3 separate regions of the Homo sapiens genome follow, and all the other regions are linked to region 1. Evidence: fine-mapped QTL for protein levels in blood plasma. A gene starts in region 1. Each other region holds a variant in brackets. All regions are shown on one strand. Distances are from middle to middle.

Evidence for each region. PIP is the chance, under the fine-mapping model, that this variant and not a neighbour inherited with it causes the effect. Sun 2018 read protein levels with aptamers (SomaScan).
Region 2: its variant is fine-mapped to the plasma level of the BST1 protein (Sun 2018, PIP 0.95).
Region 3: its variant is fine-mapped to the plasma level of the BST1 protein (Sun 2018, PIP 0.95).

What each region holds. Positions count from the first base shown.
Region 1 is chr4:15,697,631-15,707,585 of GRCh38, reverse strand. BST1 (bone marrow stromal cell antigen 1) reads right to left here and starts at 4,521. Exons shown (of 9, transcript NM_004334.3): 1 at 4,254-4,521; 2 at 1,945-2,071; 3 at 1-75. The coding sequence starts at 4,441. RefSeq lists a silencer at 4,503-4,582.
Region 2 is chr4:15,724,032-15,733,986 of GRCh38, reverse strand. BST1 (bone marrow stromal cell antigen 1) reads right to left here. Exons shown (of 9, transcript NM_004334.3): 9 at 1,200-2,247. The coding sequence ends at 2,142. It also overlaps the pseudogene RPL10AP7. Among named protein-coding and RNA genes, the nearest start is that of BST1, 26 kb to the right of the region's middle. The variant AG/G (reference allele first, on the strand shown) is at 3,072.
Region 3 is chr4:15,735,656-15,745,610 of GRCh38, reverse strand. It overlaps a transcript of BST1 not described here and the pseudogene PFDN1P2. Among named protein-coding and RNA genes, the nearest start is that of BST1, 38 kb to the right of the region's middle. The variant A/C (reference allele first, on the strand shown) is at 7,844.

The DNA.
Region 1 (9,955 bases):
GCTCAGGGGCATAAAACGACGGGTGTTGTCTGCAAAGCTGTTAACAAGGAGGTGGCTATTTTCCCAGAACAGGGACTAAGGAAAGACAAACAAAACATCAAAATACAAAACAGAATCAAAACCGACTCCTCAGGCACAATATCATCAAGGCAAGTTGGGCAATCCAGTTCTCATTCAACTCTGACCTGCTGCACAACAACTGAACGTTCTTTTTCGTTGTCTTTATTTATTCATTCAAAGACTGCTAGCATCTCTCCTCCCTTTATTCCCAGGGTATCATGCAAATGTTAATGGAATATTTTCTCACTAGTACTAAATATACGTGCATGTGGTAAGATCCCCTACATTAAAAATGATCAAGGGAACTGGGCTGGAATCCTGGCTCTGTCATGTATTAGATATGTAATCTTGAGCAAGGCATGCAATCTCCCTGTTTCTCAGTTTCTACTTCTGGAAAATGCAGAGCATGAGCCCTTTCTCTTCTTCCAGAGCTGTGGCCAGGATAATAAGCAGTCACAAAAAGCACTTCCTAAAGTGTCAAGTGCCTCAAAAACACATTGCTTTTATATTATACTTTATAGTTTCCACCATAGTGTTTTTATATAACAATAACACAAATCCCCCAGTCACTATTTCATCTGACCCTCAGTAGTCCAATCAGTTTATATTTAGACTAGAAGGTCCCCAAGGGTGAGGGCTGTTTTTCACTGTTACATCCTTAACCCTTAGCACCAATGACTGGCAAACAAATAGCCCCGGAAGTATTTACTGAGTTCATCAACTAGCACCGAATCTATGAAACAGAAGGTTAAAAAGTCAGCTTCCCCACTTTTAGTGACAGGAGGGCAGCAAGGTTCAAAAGACAGCATATACTCAAAAATCATGTTTTCAGTCTATTCTATCTTTGAACCTCACAGTTCCATTTACTTGCCTTTACAAATAACACACAATGGAAAAAATCAGGTTAACAATGTTTATGTCACAGAAACAAAAATGGTGTCTAGCATTCCTTAAACTTGAGGTATTGTTTTAAGCAAGGGTTTTATGGAAATTTTCTCATTATTTTCATTTTATTAGACCTGAGAGTGTATACAGAATATAGATATGTGGTTTTCTTAAATAAACTGGTACTAAATAAATATAATCTTAAGACCCGTTAAATGGAGAGACTGGTCTCCCGGGAGGATACTGAGATTGAGAGTTTTCTGAATTACTCAAGGTTCAGGCCATTGGGCCAGTTAGGATGAAGGTTATTTAGAACTGGCCAGATGTGGAGGCCCAGTGTGACAGGTATGGCCATGTCCTGATGTCCTCATGTTGATTCTCACACTAACTTGCTAACTTAGGAAATTTTCTTCTGCCCACAACCAGCGGGAGATCTACAATCACTATTGGAAACTGATATGATTTGGATTTGTGTCTCTTGTAAAATTGTAATCCCCTATGTTGGAGGTGGGGCCTGGTGTGAGGTGATTGGATTATGGGGGTGGATTTCCCCCTTTGCTGCTGTTCTCCTGAGGGAGTTCTCAGAAGATCCAGTTGTTTACAAGCCTGTGGCACCTCCCTCTGCCCTTGGTCCTGCTCGTGCCATGTAAGACACCTGCTCCCACTTTGCCTTCTGCTGAAGTAAAAGCTCCCAGAGGCCTCCCAGAAGTAGATGTTGCCATTCTTCCTGTACAGCCTGTGGAACTGTGAACCAGTTAAACCTCTTTTCTTTGTAAATTACCCAGTCTCAGGCATTTCTTTATAGCAATGTGACAACGGACTAATACAGAAACAAAGCTAGCTTCCCACAGAGAGCTCAGCACACACATTATGTGTGCTGCCTGATGTTTCTGTGACATTGCAGGATGCAGGGGACAGCTAATGTCAACCTGGCCCATGCACCATCCATTTCTGTAGAGACAGAGAACACAGTTTTACCCAAGATGGTTGTGGTGTTACCTTATCTCTGGGAATAGAGTGCCTGGACAAGTTAATAAAAAGGTCATAGTCTGAGGGCAGCACGGAGCAGGGATCCTTGTCCAGCGCCACTTTAAAGGCTTCCCAGATGGCTGTGCAGTTCTTGTTCCTGTGCAAAAGTACAAGTTGGGAAGAACACACACATGCACATCATAATGTGTTGTGAAGTATGCCCATTTGTCTAAGAGCTTTACAAGAGATTTTTCATATAGTAACTGCAGAAGTAGGCTTACAAAAAAGACAACGAATTGTCATGGCTTAGGTGACAGATTCAGAAATCTGACACTGGAATTGTCTCTCTGAAGGCACTGCACAGATTTCTCAGAGCTAAGGAATACAGCCTTGCCCCAGGCTCACGGAGACAAGCAGAAATGGCACCGAGCAGGAGGTGACAAATTCAGTCAACTATACAGCAGGTGCCTCTTCATTTAGACCTAACGGTGGGGCCAGTCTCATAGTCCAGTTCCAGTGTGGAGCTCGGGGACCAGGTGAGGCCAGGCCAGCCAGCAGGATGTGTAGTGTTAGGAGGGAGGCCCAATGCTGCAAAAGGCTTCCACCTCTGGCAAAGCAGGTGCACCCTCCAGTGCAAGCCCCTCTTGAGGTCCATGCTAGTTTTCAAAAAATATTTCCCATAGCATTTGTAACTTTGTTTCTCATACTGGGTGGTGTGTAACACAGGTGGTTCTCTGCTGTTTCTTATTTGCCTGAAATGTGCGACAATAAAAATGATCAGCACAAGAAAGACATCACAAACATAAGAAAAGGGGGGCCACAGAAGGAACAAAAATCAGTAAGAAATGCAGCACTGGCAAGAAAGACCCAAACTTCAGAAATCCTCCAGATTTAGGGGATCTGAAATTTGAATTCTGGAAGGACTGGACTCAAGGAATTCCAACCTGAGATCACATTCTGGGTTCTGAGTATTCAGACTAAACATCTGCTGGGTGGCAATGGGCTGTTACCCAGTTCACCTCTACCCCACCCTCACTTCTAGAGGGATACCTCTCCACCCTCCTTCACACTCACACACACCTCTCACCTCTAGACCACACACACATCCCTCACCTCTAGACCACACACACATCCCTCACCTATAGACCACACACACACACCTGTCACCTCTAGACTACACACACACACCCCTCACCTCTAGAACAAACACACACACATCTCACCTCTAGAACACACACACAACTCACCTCTAGAACACACACACACACACATCCCTTACCTCTAGAACACACACACCTCTCACTTCTAGAACACACACACCCATCATCTCTAGAACACACACATCTCACCTCTAGAACACACACCCCTCAACTCCAGAACACACACACACCCCTCACCTCTAGAACACACATACACACCTCATCTCTAGAACACACACTCTCCTCAGCTCTAGAATACACATACACCCCCTCACCTCTAGAACACACACACCCCTCACCTCTAGACCACACACACATCCCTCACCTCTAGACCACACACACATCCCTCACCTATAGACCACACACACACACCTGTCACCTCTAGACTACACACACACACCCCTCACCTCTAGAACACAGATACACACACACCTCTAGAACACATGCACGCACCCCTCACCTCTAGAACACACACACACACATCTCACCTCCAGAACACACACACCCCTCACTTCTAGAACACACACACCCCTCACCTCTAGAATACACACACCCCTCACCTCTAGAGCGCACGCACACACACCCCCTTCACCTCTAGAACACACATGCACACACCCCTCACCTCTAGAACACACATACAGACACCTCACCTCTGGAACACACACACCCCTTACCTCTAGAACACACACACACATCTCACCTTTAGAACACACACACACACCCCTCACCTCTAGAGCACACACACACACACACACCCCCACCTCTAGAGCACACACACACACATCCACCTCTAGAGCACACACACACCTCCCACCTCTAGAGCGCGCGCACACACACACCCCCCTCACCTCTAGAACACACGCACACACCCCTCACCTCTACAGTGTGTGTGTGCGCGCACACACACACACTCATCTCTAGACCCCGCACAGCGCACCCCTCACCTGCAGACACACTTCACAGCCCCCTCCTCACTCGCCCCCATCGTTCAGGACCATCGCTGTCTCCACACTCACCTCTCCCCTCAAGGCCTCTCTCATTGCCCCCTCACCCCGAACTTTAGCGCCAGTTTTCCCCTCCCCAGGCCCTCCCCACCGTTGCCTCTTTCCGGCTCCCCTTCCACCCGGCCGACTGCCTCACCGCTGCTCGGGACTCAGCAGTGCGCGGTACTCGGCGCAGCGGCCCAGGAAGATGTCCCGCAAGTGTGCGCTGGTGCCCTCCCCGCGCCACCGCGCGCGCGCCCCGCCCGCCGCCAGCAGCAACAGTAGAAGCAGAAGCTGCAGCAGCAGCTGGAGCAGCCGCGATGCCGCGCACCCCTGGGCCGCCATCGGGGAACTTTGGTCCCTCCAGTCCCGTGCTTCCTCCACTCCCCTTCTCTCCTTCTACCAAGGCGGTTCCGCAAACTGATGCAGGGCGGGACTCTCGCTCGGATATCTCGCTGTTTGCCGTTTCCCGTTCCAGACAATTTCAAGACTGAGCGTGGGGCGGGGCGCGGCGGCTCATGCCTGTAATCCCAGCACTTTGAGAGGCCTAGACGGGCGGATCGCTTGAGTATAGGAGTTCGAGACAAACCTGAGTAACATACAGGTGAGAAACCTCCTCTCTACAAAAAAATACAAAACTTAGCTGGTCCTGGTGGTGCGCATCTGTAGTCTCAGCTACCTGCGAGGTGAGATGTGAGGAGGCTTGACCCCAGGGGATCGAGGCTGCAGCGAGCAGTGATTGCACCACTGCACTCCAGCCCTGGGCGACAGAGTGAGACTCTGTCTAAAAAAAAAATTAATAAATAAATAAAATTAAAAAAGAGTGAGCTTGGAACATCACCCAGGACAGGACCAGTGCACTGTGGCCCAGGCTAATCTTGACCGCTGTCCACGGGGAGGGAGCCCCAAAGAAGCCGCAAGGTTGAAGGAGAGGTGAGGAGAGGTCAGTCATCATCAGAAGAAATACTTTTCTGGCTCCAAAGGACGACAACTTTGACAGATGCCCTCTTTCACACCAACCAATAAGTGGTGTTTGTTTGTTTTCAGGAAATAATAACCACAACAACGTGCCAAGCACTTTGCAAGTATAATATTAATTACTTTCCGCAACACCCTTCCTAGCTAAGTTTGTAATTTCTCTCGCTTTAGCAATGGATAAACTCAGGGAAGTTAAGCATGTTCGGCCCTCCAGATTTGCGGATTCATCATCCAAATTCAGCTAACCACGGATGAGAAACATTTGAGGAAAAAAAGAATGCTTGCATCTGTACGGAACATGTACGGACTTTTTTTTCCTTGTCATCATTCCCTAAATAATCCAATGTAACAACTACTTATGTAACAATTACATAGTACTTGATATTACAAGGAATCTGGAGATGACGTGAATTATAGAAGAGGATGTGCAAATACTGTATACTACACCATTTAATATAAGGGCCTTGAGCATCTGTGGATTTTGGTATCCAGGAGGTTCCTGGAACCAATTCTCCATGGATACCTACCGCCGACTGTAACTTGTCAGAGGTCACAATATCCCTTCCTGATAGATGCAAAATCCTGGAGATGTTCAGTTTAAGAGAGCCAGGATTGGCCGGGCGCGGTGGCTCACACCTGTAATCCCAGCACTTTGGGAGGCCGAGGCGGGTGGATCACGAGGTCAAGAGATCGAGACCATCCTTGCTAACACGGTGAAACCCCGTCTCTACTAAAAATACAAAAGATTAGCCAGGCGCGGTGGCGGGCGCCTGTTGTCCCAGCTACTCGGGAGGCTGAGGCGGGAAAACGGCGTGAACCCAGGAGGCAGAGCTCGCAGTGAGCCGAGATCGGGCCACTGCACTCCAGTCTGGGCAACAGAGTGAGACTCCGTCTCAAAAAAAAAAAAAAAAAGAGCCAGTATTAATAGAATACCACGTGGAGGCCCAAGTCCTCAATTCTTACAATAATGACAGCAATGAACTTTGAGTGCCTGGCAAGCACTTGATAAACACAAGGGAGGACAGAACAGGTGTTCTCTACTGTTTTATTTGAATCTCTTTTTTTCTGTAACCAAAACCCGCATTCTCCTGTTCAGTTCCTCCTTAAGTTAAATCCACTTTCCAGAGGAAAGCATTTTTAATTCTTTCAAGTTTTGTTCCTGTGTTTACTTCCATATTTCTAAATAACATGTGTGAACCCGCAAATTTTGAGACAGGTCTCAATTAATTTAGAAAGTTTATTTTAGCAAGGTTGAGGACACGTGTCCATGACACAACCTCAGGAAGTCCTGACGACATGTACCCAAGGTGGTCAGGGCACAGCTTGGTTTTATACATTTTAGGGAGACATGAGATATCAATCAATATATGTAAGAAGTACATTGGTTCTGTCCAGAGAGGCGGGGACAACTCGAAGCACGGAGGGGGCTTCCAGGTCTCAGGTAGGTGAGAGACAAATGGTTGCCTTCTTTTGAGTTTCTGATAAGCCTTTCCAAAGAAGGCCATCAGAATATGCATATATCTCAGTGAGCAGCTGAATGACTTTGAATAGAATGGGAGGCAAGTTTGCCCTGAGCAGTTCCCAGCCTGACTTTTCCCTTTAGTTTAGTAATTTTGGGGCATCCCTGGCATGGCTCGTCCCACCAAATCTAATGTGAAATTGTAATCCCCAACGTTGGAGGTGGGGCCTGGTGGGAGGTGATTTTATCATGGGTGTGGGTTTCTCAAGAATAGTCTAGCACCATCCCCTTGTTGCTATTCTCATGATAGTAAGTGAGATCTGGTTGTTTTAAACTGTGTAGCACTGGCAGGGCGCCGTGGCTCACACCTGTAATCACAGCAGTTTGGGAGGCTGGTGTGGGGGGTGTGTTGGGAATCACGGATCGAGACCATCCTGGCCAACATGGTGAAACCCCATCTATACTAAAAATACAAAAATTAGCTGGGCGTGGTGGCACGCACCTGTAGTCCCAGCTCTTCGGGAGGCTGAGGCAGAAGAATCGCTTGAACCTGGGAGGCGGAGGTTGCAGTGAGCTGAGATCTCACCACTGCACTCCAGCCTGGTGACAGAGTGAGACTCTGTCTCAAAAAAAAAAAAAAAAGAAGTGTGTAGCACCTCCTCCCTCTCTCTTGCTCCCTGCTGCCACCGTGTAAGACCCATTGCTCCCCCTTTGCCTTCCACCACATTTGGAAACTTCCTGAAGCCTCTCCAGATGCAGAAGCCACTATGCTTCCTACAGCCTGCAGAACTGTGAGCCAATTCAACCTCTTTTTCTTATAAATGAGCAGTTTCAGGTATCTATAGCAATGCAAGAACAGACTAATACAATACCTATATGCTATTTCTTGATGTTTCTGTTTGGGACATTATTCTGTTTGGGACATTATGACATTTTATTTGTTGTAAACCTCTTGTTTACCCTGGAGGTAATCATTATCTAGAAAGTAACTAGCTTGCTTTTGATATTACAGGCTCATAGGCAGAAGGCATTTGCCTTGTCTCAGATGAAACTTTGAACTGTGGACTTTTGGGCTAATGTTGAAGTTAAGACTTTGAGGGTCTGTTGAGAAGGCATGATTGGTTTTGAAATGTGAGGATGTGAGATTTGGAGGGGCCGGGGTGGAATGATATGGTTTGGCTGTGTCCCCACCCAAATCTCAACTTGAATTGTATCTCCCAGAATTCCCACGTGTTGTGGGAGAGAGCTAGGTTGGGGTGGGGGTGGGGAGGCAGGGTGGGAGTAATTGAATCATGGGGGCCGGTCTTTCCCATGCTATTCTGGTATTCTGGTGATAGTGAATAAGTCTCACAAGATCTGATGGGTTTATCAGGTGTTTCCACTTTTGCTTCTTCCTCATTTTTCTCTTGCCGCTGCCATGTAAGAAGTGCCTTTCACCTCATGCCATGATTCTGAGGCCTCCCCAGCCATGCAGAACTGTAAGTCCAATTAACCCTCTTTCTGTTCCCAGTTTCAGGTGTGTCTTTATGAGCAGCATGAAAACGAACTAATACAACTAGATCTCACATCCTCCTCTTTCTTGTTTTATGGAGCACATCTTCCAATAGCTTCTTGAGAAGATACACAGGGACTAAACTTTCTGAGATTTTTTGCATAAGAATTCAAAATGTCATTATTCTACCTTCACACTTAATTGAGAATTTGATTGGATGTCTGAGATTTTTGCATAAGAATTCAAAGTGTCATTATTCTAACCTCACACTTGATTGAGAATTTGGTTGGGTACATTTTTGCATTGGAAAGCATTTCCCTTCAAAATTTTGAAGACTGTGTTCCATTGTTTTCTGTGTTGCTGTTGAGAAATCTGAACCCATTTTCCTATTCCTGTTTATTTGACCTTTTTTGTTGTTGTTTGTTTTGTTTTTTATTCTTTGGCCTGTTTTTTTTCTATCTGGAAATTTTCAGAATTTCCTTCTATTCTTAGGAGTATGAAATTTCAGAGATGAAGTTGGGCAAAAGTAGTTGTTTTTCATTGTACTGGACAATCCATGAGCCCTTTTAACCTACAAACTCATGTCTTTAAATACTGAGATATTTTCTCAATTTTTTGGTAATTTCCCCTCCTCCAAATTCTGTTTTCTCTTTCTGAAATTCCTGTTACTCATATAGGAATGATTTCCTTGTTAGACTTCCTAGTCTTTAATTTTCTATATTTTCACCTTTTTTCTTTGTCTTCTTATACTTTCTTGAATATAAATTTATCATTATCTTCCAACTTCTCTGTTGCTTTTTTAAATTTATACTATATATATATATATATATATATATATATATATATACTTATATATACAGTTGTGTTCTACACGTTCAGGTCTTTTTGCTTTTTATAATCTTCTCTTGCTGTTTTGTGAATATTTCTGAGGCTTTTATTACAGATGTAGGTTTTTCATTTTTCTTTTAAATTTTCTTCTGCCAATGTCTGTTTCCTTTGAGTGCCTTATTTCCATTTTGGTGACTGGCTTTAATGTGAGAAGTTTCCCTCAAATAAACTGATGACCTTTGGCTGATTATTTTTACAAACACAGAAAAACATAAGGAACAGTATTAGTTCATTGTCGCACTGCAGATAAAGACATACCTGAGACTGGGTAATTTGGCAGAAGGCAACAGGCACGTCTTACATGGCAGTAGGCAAGAGACAGCTTGTGCAGGGGAACTCCTCTTTATAAAACCATCAGATCTTGTGAAACTTATTCACTATTATGAGAATGGGAAAGACCCACCCCCATGATTCAATTACCTCCCACCGAGTCCCTCATATGACATGAGGGAATTGTGGGAACTACAATTCAAGATGAGATTTGGTTGGGGACGCAGCCATACCATATCAGGCACTAATTAGAAGCAGGCTCAAGGCAAATGGTCAGAGTTTGTCAAAGGGTGGGCTGCCCTGTAGGATGAACATACTGCACTTTATCACTAAGAGATACCTGTCATTTTCTCTTGGACAGTCCGTTTTTCCAGAGAGTAATATTCCTTTTTTTTTTTTTTTTTTTTTTTTTGAGACAGAGTCTCGCTCTGTTGCCCAGGCTGGAGTGTAGTGGCGTGATCTCGGCTCACTGCAAGCCCTGCCTCCTGGATTCATGCCATTCTCCCGCCTCAGCCTCCCAAGTAGCTGGGACTACAGGCGCCCACCACCACACCTGGCTAATTTTTTTTGTATTTTTAGTAGAGACGGGGATTCACCATGTTAGCCAGGATGGTCTTGATCTCCCGATCTCGTGATCCACCCGCCTCAGCCTCCCAAAGTGCTGGGATTACAGGCGTGAGCCACTGTGCCTGGCCTAATATTCCTATTTTCTACCTGGAAGGATATATGCCTGGATGATAGCAATGTGGAGCTGAGTGGGGGAAGGTGGCTG
Region 2 (9,955 bases), 26 kb before region 1:
TAGTTTATTCCTTCACCATCTGAAGGACATGTGAATTGGTAAACATGGCTTTTACTTGTTGAATGATACTCCATTCTACAAATATTCTAAAACCCATGTAAATAGTTCTGATATGGTTTGGCTCTGTATCCCCACCTAAATTTCATATTGAATTGTGATCCCCAGTGTTGAAGGTGGGGTCTGGTGGGAGGTGATTGGATCACGGAGGTGGTTTCGGATGGTTTAGCACCATCACCTAGTGCTGTCTCATGACAGAGTTCTCACGAGATCTGGTGGTTTGAAAGCATGTAGCACCTCCCCCTTCACTCCCTTCCTCCTTCTCTGGCCATGTAAGACATGACTGCTTCCCTTTTGCCTTCCATGATGATCGTAAGTTTCCTGAGGCCTCCCCAGCCATGCTTCCTGTAAGCCTGTGGAACAGAGAGGTGAAGCCAGCTGGACTTCCTAGGTCGAGAGGGGACTTGGAGAGCTTTTCTGTCTAGCTAAAGGATTGTAAATGCACCGATCAGCACTCTGTGTCTAGCTAAAGGATTGTAAATGCACCAGTCAGCACTCTGTAAAAACACACCAGTCAGCACTCTGTGTCCAGCTAAAGGATTGTAAACGCACCAATCAGCACTCTGTGTCTAGCTAAAGGATTGTAAATGCACCAGTCAGCACTCTGTAAAAACACACCAGTCAGCACTCTGTGTCCGGCTAAAGGATAGTAAACACACCAATCAGCACTCTGTGTCTAGCTAAAGGATTGTAAATGCATCAATCAGCACTCTGTAAAATGGACCAATCAGCGCTCTGTAAAATGGACCAATCAGCAGGATGTGGGTGGGACCAAATAAGGGAATAAAAGCTGGCCACCGAGCCAGCAGTGGCAACCAGCTTGGGTCCCCTTCCACATTGTGGAAGCTTTGTTTTTTCGCTCTTCACAATAAATCTTGCTGCTGCTCACTCTTTGGGTCCGCACTACCTTTAATAGCTGTAACACTTGCCGCGAAGGTCCGCAGCTTCATTCTTGAAGTCAGCGAGACCACGAACCCACCAGAAGGAAGAAACTCCAGACACATCTGAAGGAACAAACTCTGAACACACCATCTTTAAGAGCTGTAACACTCACTGCAAAAGTCCATGGCTTCATTCTTGAAGTCAGCAAGACCAAAAACCCAGAGGTTGTCACAATTTTGTCACAATTCTGGACACAGAACTGTGAGTCAATTAAACCTCTTTTTTATTTTTATTTTTGTAAATTACCCAGTCTCGGGCAGTTCTTTATAGCAATGCAAGAACAAACTAATACAAGTTCCAAACAGTTTCAGTAAATATGTAAATATTACTGGATATTTTGGGTTTTTCCCTCATTATAAGTAACTATTATGGCTGGATGTGGTGGCTCACGCCTGTAATCCTAGCACTTTGGGAGGCTGAGGTGGGTGGATCACCTGAGGTCAGGAATTCGAGACTAGCCTGGCCAACATGGTGAAACCCCATCTCTACTAAAAATACAAAAATTAGCTGGACATGGTGGCAGGCACCTGCAATCCCAGCTACTTGGGAGGCTGAGGCAGGAGAATCGCTTGAATCCTGGAAGCAGAGGTTGCAGTGAGCTGAGATCTCCCCACCTCACTCCAGCCTGGGCAAAGGAGCGAAACTCTGTCTCTCAAAACAAAAAGGAACCATTAACTGAACATCTTTATACCAAATAAATGAAAAATGAAAACTTTGCAGACCATATATGCATACATTTATATAGTATACATATGTCTTAAGCAATCAACAAGCATGCAGTGTCCGTGCTGCTGGAGATATAGGAAAATATAGATGATGTAAAATACAGCTTTATTAGAATTCTCTTAAAATGTTTGATAATATACAAGCAGTCTGACTCCCAATGCTTTGTGTCATTATACAAATAAGAAAATAACTTGCTTTAATTCTAATGCAGCATTTTTTAACCTGCTAAATAGAACTAACTTCTTGTTTCTGAAATCCTGAACATATGCCTCATTGAAATACCATTTTCAGGACATCGTTTTCCCAGCAAAAAGCTTCTTTAGATAACAGAATCATTTGGTATACACAGAACACGAATGATGACTGCAAGGGGAGGCTGCAGGGCTGGAGGAGGGTTAGAGCAACACAGTTTCCAGTTACAGTTGAGTCCTGGAAGCCAGCACCAGAAAGAGGGGAATGATAAGACCCGCCCTTTGTTCTGTATAAAGACTTGGGGCTTTTCTTTGAGTAGCGGCTGCTGCCCTGCAAATTAACAAGGAAATAGAGAAAGTGTCAGTATTGGTGTATGGAATCTACGCTCAAAAATATATGTGCAGTATTAGTCTCTTTTCTGGTTAGCGCGGAGCGAGAAGCCATGAGCAGCAAAGTCTCCCGTGACACCCCGTAGGAGGCGGTGCGCGAAGTCCTGCACCGAAACCAGCGCAAGCACCCCAAGTTTCTGGAGATGGTGGAGTTGCAGATCAGCTTCAAGAACTATGACTCCCCAGAAGGACAAGCGCTTCTCGGGCACCGTCAGGCTTAAGTCCACTCCCTGCCCCAAGTTCTCCATGTGTGTCCTGGGTAACCAGCAGCACCGTGACAAGGCCAAGCCTGTGGATTTCCACCACATGGAAAACGAGGTACTGAAAAAACTCAACAAGAATAAGAAACTGGTCAAGAAACTGGCCAAGAGTATGATGCATTTTTGGCCTCAGAGTCTCTGATCAAGCAGATCCCACGAATCCTCGGCCCAGTCCTAAATAAGGCAGGAAATTGCCCCTCCCTGCTCACACACAAGGAAAACATGGTGGCCAAAGTGGATGAGATGAAGTCCGTAATCAATTTCCACATGAAGAAGGTGTTATGTCTGGCTGTGGCTGTTGGCCACGTGAAAAGGACAGACAATGAGCTTGTGTGTAACAGTCACCTGCCTGTCAACTTCTTGGTGACATTGCTCAAGAAAAACTGGCAGAAAAACTGGCAGAATGTCCGGGCCTTATATATCGAGAGCACCATAGGCAAGCCCCAGTGCCTATATTAAGGCACATTTGAATAAATTCTACTGCTACCAGTATAAAAAAAAAAAA[AG/G]CAAATTGTGCACACTGTGGAGAAATGTACATAGTATATAGGAAGTTATAAAGTGGAAAGTAAAAGTCTCTTAGTCTCCCCATTTGCACTTTCCATAGAAAACCAACTTTGATAGTTTGAGTTCTCTTTCCAGGAATGCAATGAACACATGCATGCTGAACCTGCTCAATATAACTAATTCCTATTTCTGCAATCCTGAGCACACACGTCATTGAAATACCATCTCAAGACATTCTTTCCTGAGCAAAAAGCTTCTCTAGACAACAGGACCTGCTGCTGCCCTGCAAATTATCCTTAGATGTCTTTAGATATCCTTTTATCTAAGCACAAATGGAATCTGCAACGTGCGTTCTTCACCTAACATCATATTTTGAACATGCTTCCATATTGGTACACAGGGAGTTAACTCATTCTTCCTTGTGGATGAATTCTTATTGTACGGATGGAACACAGTGTTAGCCAGGTTTCCTACTGATGGCTATTACATGATCAGAGTTTAAGTGGTGAAGAAAAACCTGTCCTGACATGAAGACATCAACAGAGGGCCTGCCCAAAATATGGACCCTATTCATAGTAAACAGTATCTGGCCACTGGGTTTGTAAAAACAGAAATTACTGAATTCTTTTAAACCAACTAAAAGATGAATTTTAAAATTATGAAACCATCTAATGTTGGCTTGGAAATATATCCCATGGCTCTGGACTAGTGGCCCTGTCCTTAAAAGTTCCTGACTCCATTTGAATGCTGGTCCTCTCTTTTTTGCTAAAGAAATCTGACCCACAGGTTTGTATTAGTGCTCCACCTACCGGACATTTTCTACAATTGCACCTGTGATGCAGTTAATGTCCCAGACTCGATTCACTCAAAATTTAAAATTACTTTTGCTTTCAAATAATTAACTAATTAACATAAGGTTACATTTTTCTTTACTTTTTTAAAAAATAAAATAACACATAATTAGATACACTAATAATGACAGCCTCCCTTCATCTTTTTCCAGTTTCTATTCCTTTGCCTAGAAGGAACCCACAGTTAGGTGCTTGGAGTTTACTTTCTCAGACCTATTTCTATCACTTACATCCATTATCATGCACAAATAGAAACATGCTGTTTTGCTTTCTTCTGGTTTACATGTCTCGGTTCATGTTCTGTGCATTGGTTTCTCACTTTGTAGCTTAAAAACCTTTTCTTGTCAATGTGAGACTATACTTGAGGGGGTAACTGCACTATTTGCAGTTACTTTGATTTTTAAAATTGATTCTTGTTATTACATTTATATACTCAAAAGCCTAATTTTCCCATGCCCTTTTATTTAATTTATAAATCACATTGTTCTATTTAAAAACCTGGTGAACTCTGACAATAACTCTTAAGGATTTGTCACACTTACTTAATTCCTGTGATGTTTTAAACTCAAGTTATTTCAGGTTAAGTTATTATTATTATTATTATTCTTTGAGACAGGGTCTCATTCTGTCACCCAGGCTGGAGTGCAGTGGCATGACTACAGCTCGTTGAAGCATTGACCTTCCCGGGTTTAGAGAATCCTCCTGCCTCAGACTCCTGAGTAGCTGGGACCATAGGTGCACACCAACATACCCAGCCAATTTTTTGTTTGTTTGCTTGTAGAGGCGGGGTCTCGCCATGTTGCCTAGGCTGGTCTTGAATGCCTGGGTTCAAGTGATCCTCCCGCACTGAACTCCCAAAGTGCTACGGTTACAGGCATGAGCCACTGGGCAAGGCTTCAGGTTATTTTCAACTTAAATATTAAAATATTACATCTTTTTTAAAAAATATTTTAAATGACTTTAAATTAGCAAAACTTTCTCAATTACTTGATTGTAGTAAACCTAATAAATGTATAAAATTTAATCTTAATTCTTTTACAAATTCCAATACTGGTTCAAAACTTAGTAAAATTCTCTTATAACTTCCTACTAAAAATCCCAAGCCTAAAATCAGTTACTTGGCTGAGCATGGTGGTTCACACCTATAATCCCAGCACTTTGGGAGGCCAAGGCAGAAGGATCACCTGAAGTCAGGAGTTTGAGACCAGCCTGGCCAACATGGTAAAACTTCATCTCCACTAAAAATACAAAAATCAGCCAGGCGTGGTAGCTCACACCTGTGGGCCCAGCTACTTGGCAGGCTGAGGCAGGAGAATCACTTGAGCCCAGGAGGTGGAGGCTGCAGTGATGAGCCAAGATCAAGCCACTGAACTCTAGCCTGGGTGACAGAGCAAGACTCCATCAAAAAAAAAAAAAAAAAAAGGAAGGAAGGAAGGGAAAAGAAAATTTTCCAGTAGTGCTGGCTTGCTCCTGTAGTCTCAGCCACTTGAAAGGATGAGGCAGGAGGATCACTTGAACCCAGGAGGTTGAGGTTACAATATGCCATGATCACACCACTGCACTCCATGCCTGGGTGACAGAGCGATAACCTGTCTCCAAAAAAAAAAAAAAAAAAAGAAAAAGAATTAGTTACTTAATAGTAACCCATATACTGGCATCACAGGTTTAATCCAACAGCTGTTCTTATATGCTACATTCTCTAAAATATTGCCAATAATTAAATACCAAAACATACAGATTGTCCCTAAATTTACCACAAAACTATTAATAAAATGGGTGGATTTACATCAACAGTTGTTTATTTCATTTGAAACCTTTGCAGATTAAAAGCCCTTTACCCCACTATTCCTAAACAAGTAGAGATGAGTAGTCCTGTCTCTGTGGCCTGGGGCATTTAGGATAGAGCCTTCCAGCTAAGTTAAAAGATCTGATGTTTGCCTTTGGCCCTTAGTGCCACACTGAGTCCTCATTCCAGTACTATATGTCTGTTTTCTCATATCATCACCAATCCTGCAGATTAAAAGTCTACTGAATTTTTGGCCAATATTATAACCTATAAGCGCTAAGGTTGGTTTTTTCCCCTTGGATTATTCATGGGGTCTTCTGCTTGCTGTATGATTATCCTACCATTGTCTTTAAGGGCTATATTCTACTCCCTCCAGTAAGTGTACCCTTTGATGTAACTGTTTACTTGTCAGTGGATATTTGAGTCCAGTTCCCAGTATTTCAGTATTATAAAGAATGCTCTGGAGAACATATTTGAGCATATAGGCTGTATGTGCATTTCAAATCACTTGTTTGGAATAGGGCACCAAAAGTACCCTAAAGTGTGACCTAGGTCAAAGACTGTGATATTTTTCTAATTCTTGACACATATTGTCAAATTGTTTTCCCAAAGCACTTTATCAATTTACAGTGACATCAAGCATTGAATAACATCTCTAAAACATTTTTCTGCTATGTTTTAATGTATGCCAAGAAAGTTTAGGTGAAAATGACACCTTGTTGAATTTGTTTTCCATTATTATTAGAGTGATTAAATAATTTTGTATATTTGCTATTTGTGGTTTCTCTTTTGTAAATTATCTATGACTATTCACAGCTAGAATGTTTAAAAAATAGATTAGAAAAATTCCTGCCAGGGTGATGAAAGTTGGTGAAAAACTTGGCAGAGTGAAAGAGAGTTTTATCCTTGACATTCAAAGGAATCAGCCAGAATTGTCAAAAATGTCTACCAACAGTCACTGAAAGAATGCCCACACACAGGGAAGAACAGGTCAGGAACTGCAAACCCCTTACTTACCTGCTGTGGTGTGAGACCCAGAGACATTTTAAGGCAGTGTGGTGTGGTAGGAAGAATGAGAACTTTACACACAGACAAATCTCCGTTTTGCTTCGGCCTCTGAGTAACATTAAATGATCACTTAATCCTTCTGAACCTCAGCATCATTGATGACAATCAAACTGTCTTCCTTCTAGGAATGTGGTTGGAGTAAAATGAGATGATGACTCCAGAGTGCCAGCTGGAAGCCTGACACTGCAAAGTGCTCAGAAATACTGAGGAAAACTCGGGAGGCTGAAGCAGGGGAATTGCTTGAACCCGGGAGGCGGAGGGTGCAGTGAGCCGAGATCACGCCACTGCACTCCAGCCTGGGCAACAGAGCGAGACTCCATCTCAAAAAAAAAAAAAAAAAAATACCGAGGAAAAGTGAGAAGAGCTACCCTCGTTCTCCTTATTCTTCCTGCAGCAGGGGAGCTAACCCAAGGCACTGGTGCTAGGATGGCACCATTTGCCCATTTCAGGAATGGTGGTGTAGGGTGCAGTGGGTTTTACAACAAGGAATTTTACATGGTCTGTTTCTGTATAGGTTGACAGTCTGATTAATGAGACAAAGAGTAAAACCATACAAACCTAAGTAATTCTAACACCACAGACACTTCCCTATCCAAGACTTATGAGGTTCCAGGCTCCTTAGAAAGTCTATACCACTAATCTTTGCAACAACTTTATTCCCCCTTTTCCACATAAGTGAGCCACACAAGGATTCTTTTTCTTGCAATCAAAATGTAGACCTTATGCATATGCAGCCTCTGGGCACTTCTCTGAAGGTGTTGTAGAGCATTTGTCATTCCTTCTGGCTGCCCAGCACCTTTGAACATCGTTCTTCTTAAATCTATGCCTTTCCAGGGTAGAATCCAACCATTCATTCGTTCATTCATCTATTCATCCATTCATTCATTCCTAAGTGTCTACCGAGTTGCAAGTTCTGTTTTAGGTCCTTAGAATACCATCATCAGTGAAAAAAACAGGTCAAAGTCCCTGACCTCCTGGAGCTCATGTTCTGACAGGTGGGAGGCGCTAAAGAATGAATTTGCCAGCATGGGCAATATAGTGAGACCTCATCTCTACAAAAAAAAAAAAAAAAAAACTTTAAAAGTTAGCTGGCGTAGTGGTAAGTGCCTGTATCCCCAGCTGTTTGGGAGGCTGAGGTGGGAGGATCACGTGAGCCCAGGAGGTCAAACCTGCAGTGAGCCGTGATTGTGCCACTGCACTACAGCCTGGGTGACAGAGAGAGGAGAGAGACCTCGTCTCAAAAAAAAAAAAAAAAAAAAAAAAAGACCGCACTTCACAAGTAGGTCAGTCAGAAGATAAACACTATAAAAAAGAAAAAAAATGCAGTCACATGAGGGTTTTGAAGAGCCACAGTTGTGAGATGGAGGCTATGATTTTAAATATTGAGATCAGGGATCAGGGTAACCTCATGGAGGCTTTGTAGATAAGAAAACTGACAATTTCAGATCATCTGACTAACTCAGTAAGAACAGAGTGCTTACTACTGCCAAAACGGTGTTTCCACAGGCTGATGAGCAGGAAAGCATATGATATCTTATGGGAAGTGGATCAAAACTAGCCTTGAAATAAACATTCCAGATGAGAAGCTGTGGGTGACGTGTCTGGAAAGAGTATGATGAACCTGGAAGATGGGACTAGAAGTCTGAACTTGGTAGTAGGTAACTTTGAAGGTTTTTGAGCAGCAGCGACATGAGGGTGGACTTCATTTTCAGGTGAGGAAAGGAAAGACCCAGGTTCACAGGCTATCCTTTACCTCCTGTGAAAGGACTCAGAAACGATGCATGCCAAATTCACAGGGAACGAATAGCATTAAAGAATGAGGAGAGGACTTAAATCCATCACCGAACCCTGGGATGTTGGCTCCTAGAATACATGCTGGAGATGATGGGTCTGTTGTCCTAATTTCCAGCCCAAAGAGCAAGACATCTGCCAGAGTGAATTTTGACAGTTCTCAGACTCCTTCAGATCCTGGTTCTGCCTGCACTAGCTGGGTGGTCTTGGGTGAGTCCTTCATAAACTTCTCTGAGCCAGAGTTTCTTTGCTTCTGAAGGGAGAATATGAACCTACCCACATTGGATCAAATAAAATCTGGCTTCTGTCTAAATGACAGTGGCTTAGAGAAGACAGATGTTTATTTCTCTCTCAGTAACTCTTCAGGGCTGGTAGAGTGATGCCATGGTACAGAGGCACCCGGCTTCCTTTTGCTGTGTTACTCTGCCACGCCCAGTTGAAGACGCTCACCTCCACATCTTGTGGGCCCATATACCAGCCAGCATAAAAGGAGAAAGGGAATGTAAGTCCCTTCCTTTCAAGTGCTAAACCCAGAAATTGCACATGTCACTTGGCCACAGTGGGTAGAGAGGCTAGGATCATTATTCTTGATAGCCATGAACCATCTAAAATTCAAGGGTTCTATTACTAAATGAAAAAGAGAATAAGAACTATATGGGGATGACAAGCCAGCTCACCAGTGCATGTGCTCTCTTTCTCTCTCTCTCTCTCTCTCTTATTTTATTTTATTTTTTGAGATGGAGTTTCACACTTGTTGACTGGGCTGGAGTGCACTGGTGCAATCTCGGCTCACTGCAACCTCTGCCTACTGGGTTCAAGTGATTCTCCTGCCTCAGCCTCCCAAGTAGCTGGGGTTACAGGCACGCACCACCACTCCTGGCTAATGTTTTGTATTTAGTAGAGATGGGGTTTCACCATGTTGGTCAGGCAGGTCTTGAACTCCTGACCTCAGGTGATCCACCCGCCTCAGCCTCCCAAAGTGCTGGGATTACAGGCATGAGCCACCACACCCAGCCTGACTCTCTTTAATGTACTGGTTATTCAGATAAACATACTATTTTATGTAGTGCACACAGCAAATGCCTAGCATATAGTTACTGTGCACTCTGATTAGTTCTCTTCCCTTGTAGATGGAAGAACGGATCCTACAGGCATAGATGGTGCACCTACTATGTGCAACTGTAATGAAAAATACTAAGAGAAACACAAAGAGGAAGGCAGAGTGAGGCAGGCAGATGGTACAGAATGAACGATAGCAGGGCTAGGAAGAGTAAAGCACTGTCATCAGGTTGTGTACAAAGTCCTTGGAAGCAAAGAGAAGGGAGTTCCTCAATCAACGTGGAGAATGAGGAAAGCCTCACAGAGCAAAGAACACTTGAGTTGGATTGT
Region 3 (9,955 bases), 38 kb before region 1:
ACTCAGAAGGCTCTTGATTTTGAATGACCTCAAGAACAAGAGAGGGCTCTGCAGACAGTCCAGAGCCTGGATCTTGACATTTCAGTCATATTACCTGGAAGAAACCATGATTTTAAAGGCAGGGCCAACTACATAATTTTGGGGGCAATGCAAAATGAAAACGTGAAACACTTTGTTCAAAAAGCAGAAAAAAAGTACAGCTAAGTTAAATATACTGAAACAATACATTTTCCTTTAAAAATATTATATTACTGACAAAATGTAATCAGAGTAATAGTTATCATGAATTACAACATAAACCTACAAATTGCAAGAAAATATTGGTGTCATAATTTTATATTTGTATGTAATTCAATGTATAATATGTAATTTTATATGATACAGTAAACAGTAATACTTTCTTAATGTGACACCTTGATTTATTATGAGATTTCTCTAATTCATTCTTCCATAAATGTATTAGGTATCAGAATTTATGCTTTTTGCAACTTCTTTATTGATCAATATAATTGAATGTGATATAAAACACTTTTATTACCTGCAAAGTTGCAGATAATTTTAATAATTTTAAATTTTGGAAGAATTTTCTGCTAATAAAACTGTTACTGAAATGCTAAACATGTTTTATAGCATTGGAATAAATCTGAAAAAATATTTCATTATATAAATTTTAGCATGTCTAGAAGTGATGACTTACAGAAAACATTTTCCAAAAAATTTAACTCTTCATATCAGTTCTGTATAAGTCTGAATTTTTATTTGAGCTTTGAACATTCATTATCCTTGTTTCTAACACGATTTTCAAATTTAGATAATTTTTGTAATGGCTGTTTTTAACAAGTGGCTTGCAACAAAATTCATGAAAATTGAACAATCAGCCCTCCTGAGTGGGTATAGGCCAGCTCCAGCACTCCTCTGCCCCTAAGCCTCACGATTACAGTGTCCATCTTATGATATTGGCCAAAGGGAGAAAGTCTTGGAAGTGCTGCTTATTGTTGAACTTTCTTTTGGAATGTGATATGGTTTGTCTGTGTCTCCACCCAAAATCTCATCTTAAATTGTAATCCCCATAATCCCATGTGTCAAGGAAGAGACACCAGGTGGAGGTGATTGGATTATGGGGGCGGTTTCCCCCATGCTGTTCTCCTGATGGTGAGTGAGTTCTCACAAGATCTGATGGTTTTATAAGTGTTTGGTAGTTCCTCCTGTGTCATTCCCTTTCCTGCCACCTTGTGAAGAAGGTGCCTTGCTTCCCCTTTGCCTTCCACCGTGATTTGTAAGTTTCCTGAGGCCTCCCCAACCACGTGGGACCCTGAGTCAATTAAACCTCTTTCCTTTAAAAATTACCCAGTCTCGAGCTGCTCTTTATAGCAGTGTGCCAATGGACTAATACAGAAGGTATGGGAGAAAGCAGGGAAAGGAATCTGTAGGCAGACTGCCATAAAGGAACCACTATTCTTTTCACTTAAATTCAGCTTTCGGTGTAAGTCTTCTTTCTTCCTCATCTGTATACTACACAGAGGCCCAGAAGGTGAAGGGATTAGTCAAATGTCCAGAAAAGGAAAAGATAAGAGGACAAGATCCCATCCCCCAAGGAAAGAAAGACTCTAATGCAGAGGGAGCAGGAGCTGTGATGGAGATAGCCACTGCCTCTCTCACCCTCCATTCCCATCCCTTGGCTCAAGAAAGGCAGATGTAGCAGAGTGGGACAGATGCTGTTTACTGGTCTGACCAGCGTCCCTAATGGAAGGCTCAGACAGAGCCTCCTATCAGTCCTGGCTCCCATCTTCCCTTTCCTGGGAGCTCATGACTCACACCAACAGAAAAGAGTGTCCTGAGCAGGGGAGGCAAAGCCAGGGTAAAAATCTCAGAGTTGGGATACAAGAGGGGCTCAACATGTGAGATTGCTAGGCCATCCAGATAAAACATCCATTAGGGCAGAAGACAGACTGTTTCCCTGCACAGACCACTCTGCCCTTGCCAGAAATAGGAGGGGCAGGAGGAAGAGCTTCCCGCAGAGGCTCCCAGCTGGGCCCTTTGTGCCATCAGCATCTCCCAGATGTTGCCCTCAGCTTCCTTAACATTCTGCTCTAGGTAGGATTTTTTTCTGTTTTAGTTCTTTAATTTTTTTTTCTTCTGCTATTTTCTGACTTTCTAACAGTTTATTGTGAACTGCCTCCTTGGATTGAAGAATAAACATTCTTCATCTTCATACATATATCCTACAGCTTCATACAGATTAGTCTCATCCACCGAAGTCATGATCTCTGCATCTGTAAGATGTGCATGCTTTTTTGTTCTGTTTAGCTGTTTGGTCGGTATGTCTGTAAGCTTCACCTTCTGTTGAGTGTCAAAAACTTTGTCTTGAAGCTCTGTGAAGATCCATGGGGGTTACCATCTTGGTGTCTGAATTTTATTTTAAATGTAAAATTATGCAAGGGAATTTTGATGTTTCCTCTGACATTGTAATTTGTGGAAGTTGGTGCAACAAACTGAAAGTGGGTTCATGATTTTCACATACTTCAAAAAGGTCTGTTTATGCATCCTTTCACTGTACCTTAAAGTATAAGGAAAAATTAATTTCAAAACTGTCCTCCTTGTAAATAAGTGGCTCATCTGAAACTTCATATTAATTTGTTTTCTTTCCATCCCATCTCTGCTGCAGCTGGTGCCAGTTGCCATCTCAGGGCAGGCCCAATGTCCTCCTGGGAGCAGTCCTGAACCCATGACTGACAAGTAGATAAATATCTCAACCTCCTTCTGTCTCAGATACAATCAGTTCGAGGTGCATTCTGCACTGTATGCCTTAGTTCCCCAGCAGGCTTCAACCCCAGTTTCCTTCAGTGATAACAGCCTGATAACACTGTATTGGCTTCCTGCCATCCCTAACTCAATTCCCACTTCTTCATCAGTGTTTCCTGTACCTTCAGGTAGTTTATTACCTCCCAAATGAACTCCCTGGACTTATCCTCTGTCACAGGTCTGCTTCTAAAGAAATTCAAAGTCAGTCAACAACTTTGTCTTTGTCTATTTAGTGTTGCTGTAACAGAATACCTGAGCCTGAGCAGTTTATAAAGAAAAGAGGTTTATTTGGCTTAAAATTCTGGTGGCTGGAAAGTTCAAGATTAGGCATCTGTATCTGGTGAGGGCCTCAGGCTGCTTCGACTCATGGTGGAAGTGGAAGGGGAGCCAAAGTATGCAAAGAGATCACATGGCAGTAGGGGAAGCCAAGGAGGGAGGGAGACAGGTGCCAGGCTCTTTTTAACAGCCAGCTCTCAAGGGAACTAAGACAGTGAGAACTCACACACCCATCCCCAAGGGAGCACAGTAATTAATTCATGAGGGGTTGACCCCCATGACCCAAACACCTCCCAGTAGACCCCACCTCTGAACATTGCCACATTGAGGATCAAATCTCAGCATGAAGTTTGGAGGGACAAACATTCAAACCATAGCAAACTTAATCTGGCTTAAATAATAAAGAGGATTCCTTGATGAGCAAGAGAAGAGACCACCTTCTTCTCCATCTCAAACCCTGAAAAACTGCTTCTGGGCTTGTCACAGCTTTGGCAGCAGAGCTGAGCATGTTAAAATAAAATGGAGTTTTATTTGTTTGTACTGTATGTTGGTGAAGGAGGCAGCAGCAACAGAGACCGGGGCGTTATGCACCAACCATATTATGCATCTGGAGATTCCCAGAGCAGCAACTGGGACAGGGACTACTGAATCCCTCAGACTTTAGGCCATAAGCCAATGAACATTTACTGTAAAAGGTGAGATAATACTTTTCGCTTTGCGGGCCATGCAACCTCTGTTGCCACTGCTCAACTCTGCAATAGCTCAGAAGCGGAATAGATAAGCACAAACTAATGAGCATGGCTGAGTTCCAGTAAAACTTTATACACTAAAATTTGAGCTTCATGTAGTTTTCAGACGCCATGAAATAATGTTCTTCTTTTGATTTTTTTCAACCATTTAAAAATGGAAAACCCACGTGTGTCTTTGGGGTTGTACAAAAGCCAGAATGGGCCCCTGCTATGGGCCATTGACACATGCTCTCAATAAGGCTGTGAATTAGAGGTTTCCCTGCACACAATGTTGTAAGCCCCTTGGAGGTTTGGAGATTCCAGCATCTATGACTGATTTTTCATGAAGGTTATTGAGGATGTGAACAGAATGTTTCAGTACTTTCCCCATCCATCTGCCTCAGCTTTCCTCTTCCTACCCTTCCTCCCTTATCAGGAAGCACTTCTATAATAATAGGATTGCTAGGAGCACAGAATTCTCGGGCCATGTTTTACTCCTGGACAAGGTTACTCTACTCCAAGTATGGTGTCCTCCCTGGCCTGTCCACTCTAGCTGTAGACAGGGATGGCCCCTAGAGGGAAGCCTGCCAATCCAGCTGTTACATAATGACAGCTGATCTCCAATCTGTGATTCTACTTGTCTGTAGCAGCCCCGTTTGACAACTTTGTTGGAGGAGGAGTGAGTAACGGCCAAATTCAATCTTTTGTCGCTAGATATAATACCAAAAAAACTGTCACTGCTCTTCCCAAGACTCCTAATCAATATCATCAGTAAATATTGGCTGAGTAAATATATGCAACCTCTGTCACAACTACTCAACTCTGCGGTTCATGACGGATAATGAACCCTGTGGACCCCTCACGAACCACGGAGTTGAGTAGTTGCGACAGAGGTTGCATGGCCAGCAAAGCTAAAAGTATTACTTCACCTTTTACAGAAAATGTTCATTGGCCTATGGCCTAAAATCTGAGGGATTCAGTAGTCCCCGTCCCAGTTGCTGCACTGGGAATCTCCAGACGGATAGTTTGGCTTGTAAATAATGCTCCAGCCTCTGTTGCTGCTCCTTCTTCACCAACATATAAGAAATAAAATTACATTTTATTTTAATATCCTCAGCTCTGCTGTCAAATATTTGTTATAATTTAACAAATTAATAAATTTGTTAAATAAGGTGCAAATGCTGAAGACAAACTCAGTAGTTGAGAACATAAACCTTTGTATAGATTAGTCTCCCTACCTGAAAATATTTCCAATCCACCCCCTCACACCTTCACCTCTCATCTGGCTAATAGCTCTCGTTTTTTCAGGTTCAACTTAAGGAAGACTTTCTCTGGAAAGCCTCCTCTCCCGATACTAGACTATGTTAGGTTTCCCCCAGTGCACAATCCCAAAGGACTCTGTTTCATCTTCATCCCACAAATGAAAGTAGATAATAACTACTAATTTAGGCCCGACATGGTGGCTCATGCCTATAATCCTAGCACTTTGGGAACCCAAGGCGGGCAGATCACTGTGGTTAGAAGTTTGAGACCAGCCTGGTCAACATGGCAAAACCCCGTCTCTAGCAAAAAGAATACAAAAAATTAGCCAGGCATAGTGGCGTGTGCCTGTAGTCCCAGCTGCTAGGGAGGCCGAGGCATGAGAATCACTTGAACCTGGGAGGCAGACGTTGCAGTGAGACGAGACGGTGCCACTGCACTCCAGCCTCGGTGACAGAACGAGATTCAGTCCCCCCTGCCCCCAACTAATTTAGTTATCAGCCAGTGAGGATCAGGAGATACACTCTCTCCCTGTCTCTCTCTATCCTTATCTCTCTCTCTCTCCCTTCTTCCCTCTCTTTCTCTGTCTCTCTCTGTTTCTCTGTCTGTCTGTCTCTCTCTCTGTCAATGTCTCCCTCTCCTTTTCTCTCTCTCACCGACTTCCCTCCCTCCCTTTCTCCTTCCCCCTCCTACCACCAAATTTTATTACTAGCAGCAATGGTGAACAATGACTTCACTCTGATTATATTTCTGTACACATCTTTTTACCCTACAAAATTTAATCGAGTTTAATGTGTTCCCCTGAGAGCTTGTCACTGTATGTTAACTATTTTAAAATTTTACAAGCACCATCTTAGAGTTACTGTGTCACATGTCCTATAGCAAAGTCATGAAGGTGCAGCTGGCACAAGTCAAATGAAAACCCTTCTACTTTTGTGCAGGGGAGAAATACACACACACACACACACACACACACACACACACACACACGGTTTGGCTTCTTAACATGCATTTTTCTCAAATAAGTAAGTCATTTCAGTGAAGAGTTTGGGTAATTCTGACAGCTACCCTTTAATAGCTACATGATAAAAGAAGTTCCAAAGAACCAAATCACGTAACAAAGAATACATGTGCTTTAGAGAACCTGCTGCATTCTACATCTTTTAGGGGGAAAAACAAAACTATATTCCTAAAATTCTAAGCGGAGTGATTTAATACATATACGTTTCATATTGAAACATGTTTTAAAGAGACTACCAAGAAAACACAAATACATAAGACTTCAAGTAATGAGTAATTATGGTGAAATTAGCATAGTTCAGATTTTCCAACCTGCTTCATTGGTTATGCATGTGGGTGTTTGAAACCCTTGCCAGGTCTTTAAAAACAAGCTCCCAGTCTCAGCAATAGCTGTGCCCTGTTCTCCAGCATGGGCTTTCAATTTGCCCTTCTCTTTGGTGCCAAAAGTCTCCTGAGAAGAGTAAGGCTGAGTTCTGGGTTTCAAATGCCTGTGAATTAAGTTCTAGCAACTGCAGAGTCTCCAATGATGATTCATTGTCCTGAGTTCCACTTTCTCACCCTGGGAAACTTCAGAAAGACTGAAATGGAAATGAGCATTAGGAGCTAGGTCCGCTTGCCTGGGCTGTCTCTCAGGTTAGTGGAACTGGGATTACTTCTCAATCAGCCATGTTCATTTGGCACCTTTGGCAAACCTCAATTTTCACAGCAGGAGAAATAAAAAAAGCTAGTGTTCACTTGGCACATGCCTGCTTCTAGTCTTTACTTTGGAAATTTTCATTGTTGTGTTAGCTTACCAGGGTGGCCATAACGAACTATGAATTTGAGGGAACACAGTTCCGTCTGTAACAATCGTGTGGAAGCTGAACTTCAAACAGGTAAGCTATCAGCTGGCTAACGTGTGGTCATTCCCACTTCCCATCAAGGTTTTTTATTTTTATTTTTATTTTTTTATCAAACTCTCTTGCCTTCCAACATATATTTTTAAATCAAACAATATTTAGGAATGTTTTTAGGATCTTTTTCTCCTTTTATACTGACCAACATCATAGACTCCTCACCCTGTTTAACATCTTTGTATTCTCCGGTCTTTGTGAATGTCCCTCTGCTACCTTACTAGACACACCAGACTGACCGACTCTCTTATCAAAGAATGACTTATAGACGTCATTATTCTTTTTCCCAAGTGTCTGAAATTCCTTTTCAAATTAGGCTTTCATTTTTTTGAATAGGCTTTAATGTTTAGAGCAGTTTTAGGTTCACAGCAAATTTGAGCAGAAAGTACAGAGCTTCCCACATACGCTCTGTCCCCACACATACATAGCCTCCCCCACTGGCAGCATCCCCACCAGAGTGGTGGAGTGGTGCATTTGTCACAACTAATGAACCGACATTGAAACATCATGGTCACCCAGCCTCTGTAGTTTACCTGAGGGTTCACCCTTGGTGTTGTACCTTCTGTAGGTTTGGACACATATATAATCACCTGTATCCACAATTCTAGTATCATGCAGAGTATTTTCACCACCCTAAATATTTGGGAGTCCATTTTATCCTGTTTCCTCTGAAGCTTGTGGAGAGCATTCATGTGGACGGAGCTGGACTAGGCAGGCATGCAATTGACTCAACTCTTGCCAGAGCCTCTGGAGATTTCGGCTTCCTTGCTGTGGGAGTGGAAGGCATTTACATCTTTGGACTCTCTGACAGTCAGTATCTTCCCCATCATGGTTCCCACAGTTTCCTGTTCAGGTTCAGAAAGT[A/C]CCTTGTTACCAAGTCTATCGTGCTAGAGGGAATACAGCCAAGTGTAAGGTACCTGGTACCTACGACAGGAGAGGAAAGAGAACTCAGTTCTTCATGTGCCCACCCAGTCCTTGTGCTCAGGGGTCTTCCATGTGCATTTCTCTTTTGGTCAAATGCTTAGCATTGTTCATTCACTTGGTAGAAGAGCATTAAGTACCCATTAAGTGTGCCAGGCATGGAGCTGGTGCTGGGACCTGTTTGTTGAAGACACACGAGGCTGGTTTTCTTAGCTGCTTTTGCCAGGGCTCCCTGCTGCCCCCTTGCTGCCCAGACCATGGAGGAACCGAGGCCAAGAGAGGTGACCTTGGCCAAGTAAGAAAAGCTTTCTATGTCTATGTTTTCTCATCTGTAAAATAGGATAATAAGAGAATTGATCCTATGGGGTCGAGTGAGGATTGAAAGGGGCCATTTATGAAAATACTTCACACAGTGCCCAGTGCACAGTAACTTCTGATCTGCAGAGAGTGCTGTATTGCAGATGGTGTTTAGACAGCTATCAAACAACTCTAGTAGTAGTAACAATAACACTAGCAAATAACACTTATACAGGGCTGATCTACTATACTCCTGGCACTGTTCTGGGTTCTTTATGCACATTCGCTCATTGAATTATGAGTACTTATAATCCCTACTTACACACACGGTGATGCAGCTCAGGTAAGGTAAGTGAGTTGCCCAAGGCTACACAGCGAGCAAGTGCTGAAGGTAGGATGTGGGCCAACCTGTTAGGTGCCAGAGTCCATGCTCTTGGCCACAATGTTAGGCTGCCTCCCCATTTCCTTTGTCTTGATTCCCCAAACCCAAGGTTCTCACCCAATCTGATCAAATGCTGACTAGGTCATGGCTGGTCAGGGTAAAGCATTATGACAGACACAAAGACAAAGAGGTAAAGTTGCTGTCCTCAAGAGAGAGAGACATAAAAACAAATGGATCTGGAACTAAGTAAGGCTTCGAGGAGGAGGTGAGCAAAGGTACCAGATCCAAAGGCTTATGTTGAGAATACGGAACTGAGAGAAGGTTCATGGAGAGTGCAGTGGGGTCTCCTGGGACACAGACCTAGTAAGGCAGTTTAGGGGCAAATGGAAAGATCTTGAATCGCAGATTTTTTTTTTTTTTTGGAGACAGAGTCTCACTCTATCACCCAGGCTGGAGTGCAGTGGAGCAATCTAGGCTCACTGCAACCTCTGTGTCCTTGGTTCAAGCAGTTCTCCTGCCTCAACCTTCAGAGTACCTGGGATTACAGGCACGTGCCACCACGCCCAGCTAATTTTTGTATTTTTAGTACATACAGGGTTTCACCATGTTGTCCAGGGCTCCTGACCTCAAGTGATCTGCCCACCTTGGCCTCACAAAGTGCTGGAATTATAGGCAGGAGCCACTGCGCCCGGCTTCTTGAAGAGCAGATTTTAAAATTTGAAATTTGTCTTGCCAAGGGTAGGAAACCATTGCTGATTTTGAGCAAGAGGACGATGCACTCAGGACCCTAGCGTAGGACATTGCTCTGGCAGCATTGTGGAAGTTAGGCTGAAGGAGAAACCAAGCAGAAGCAGAGAGATCAGTCAGGAGGCAATGATATGTTTGAAACCCATGATTTACCTTGTACAAAGGCTAGAACCGGCGGTTGTATGGTTCTGCTCTGGGTCGCACTCCTAATGTCCCACATAGCCTCTTGGGTCTATAAATATAAATATGTGCATAAAAACACATAGAAAAATGTCTGCTACTCTGCGTGCAGTATGACAGATGAGATTTGCCTTCTTCCTAATTTTTCTGTATTGTGTAGATTTTTTTCAAGTAAAGAGCCATTATTACTCTTATATTCGGGAAAAAAGTGAAGTTATGTTTAGTTTTTAAAAATAAAGCCTTATTTTTCTTATGGAACTCAAAATGGCATTTCTCTAATTGAGTCGCAGGTCACTGTGCTGTGAGTGGCTAAGTCGCCTGGTAACCCAGGCAACATGAAGGCAGCAGACACTGTGTTTTCCAAGCTTGGTCTAAGAGACGCCCCTTGGCTGGGGCTCCCATGGGATTGGCCTAAGGAGCCAGACGGTCCTGAGACAAACCATGAATTA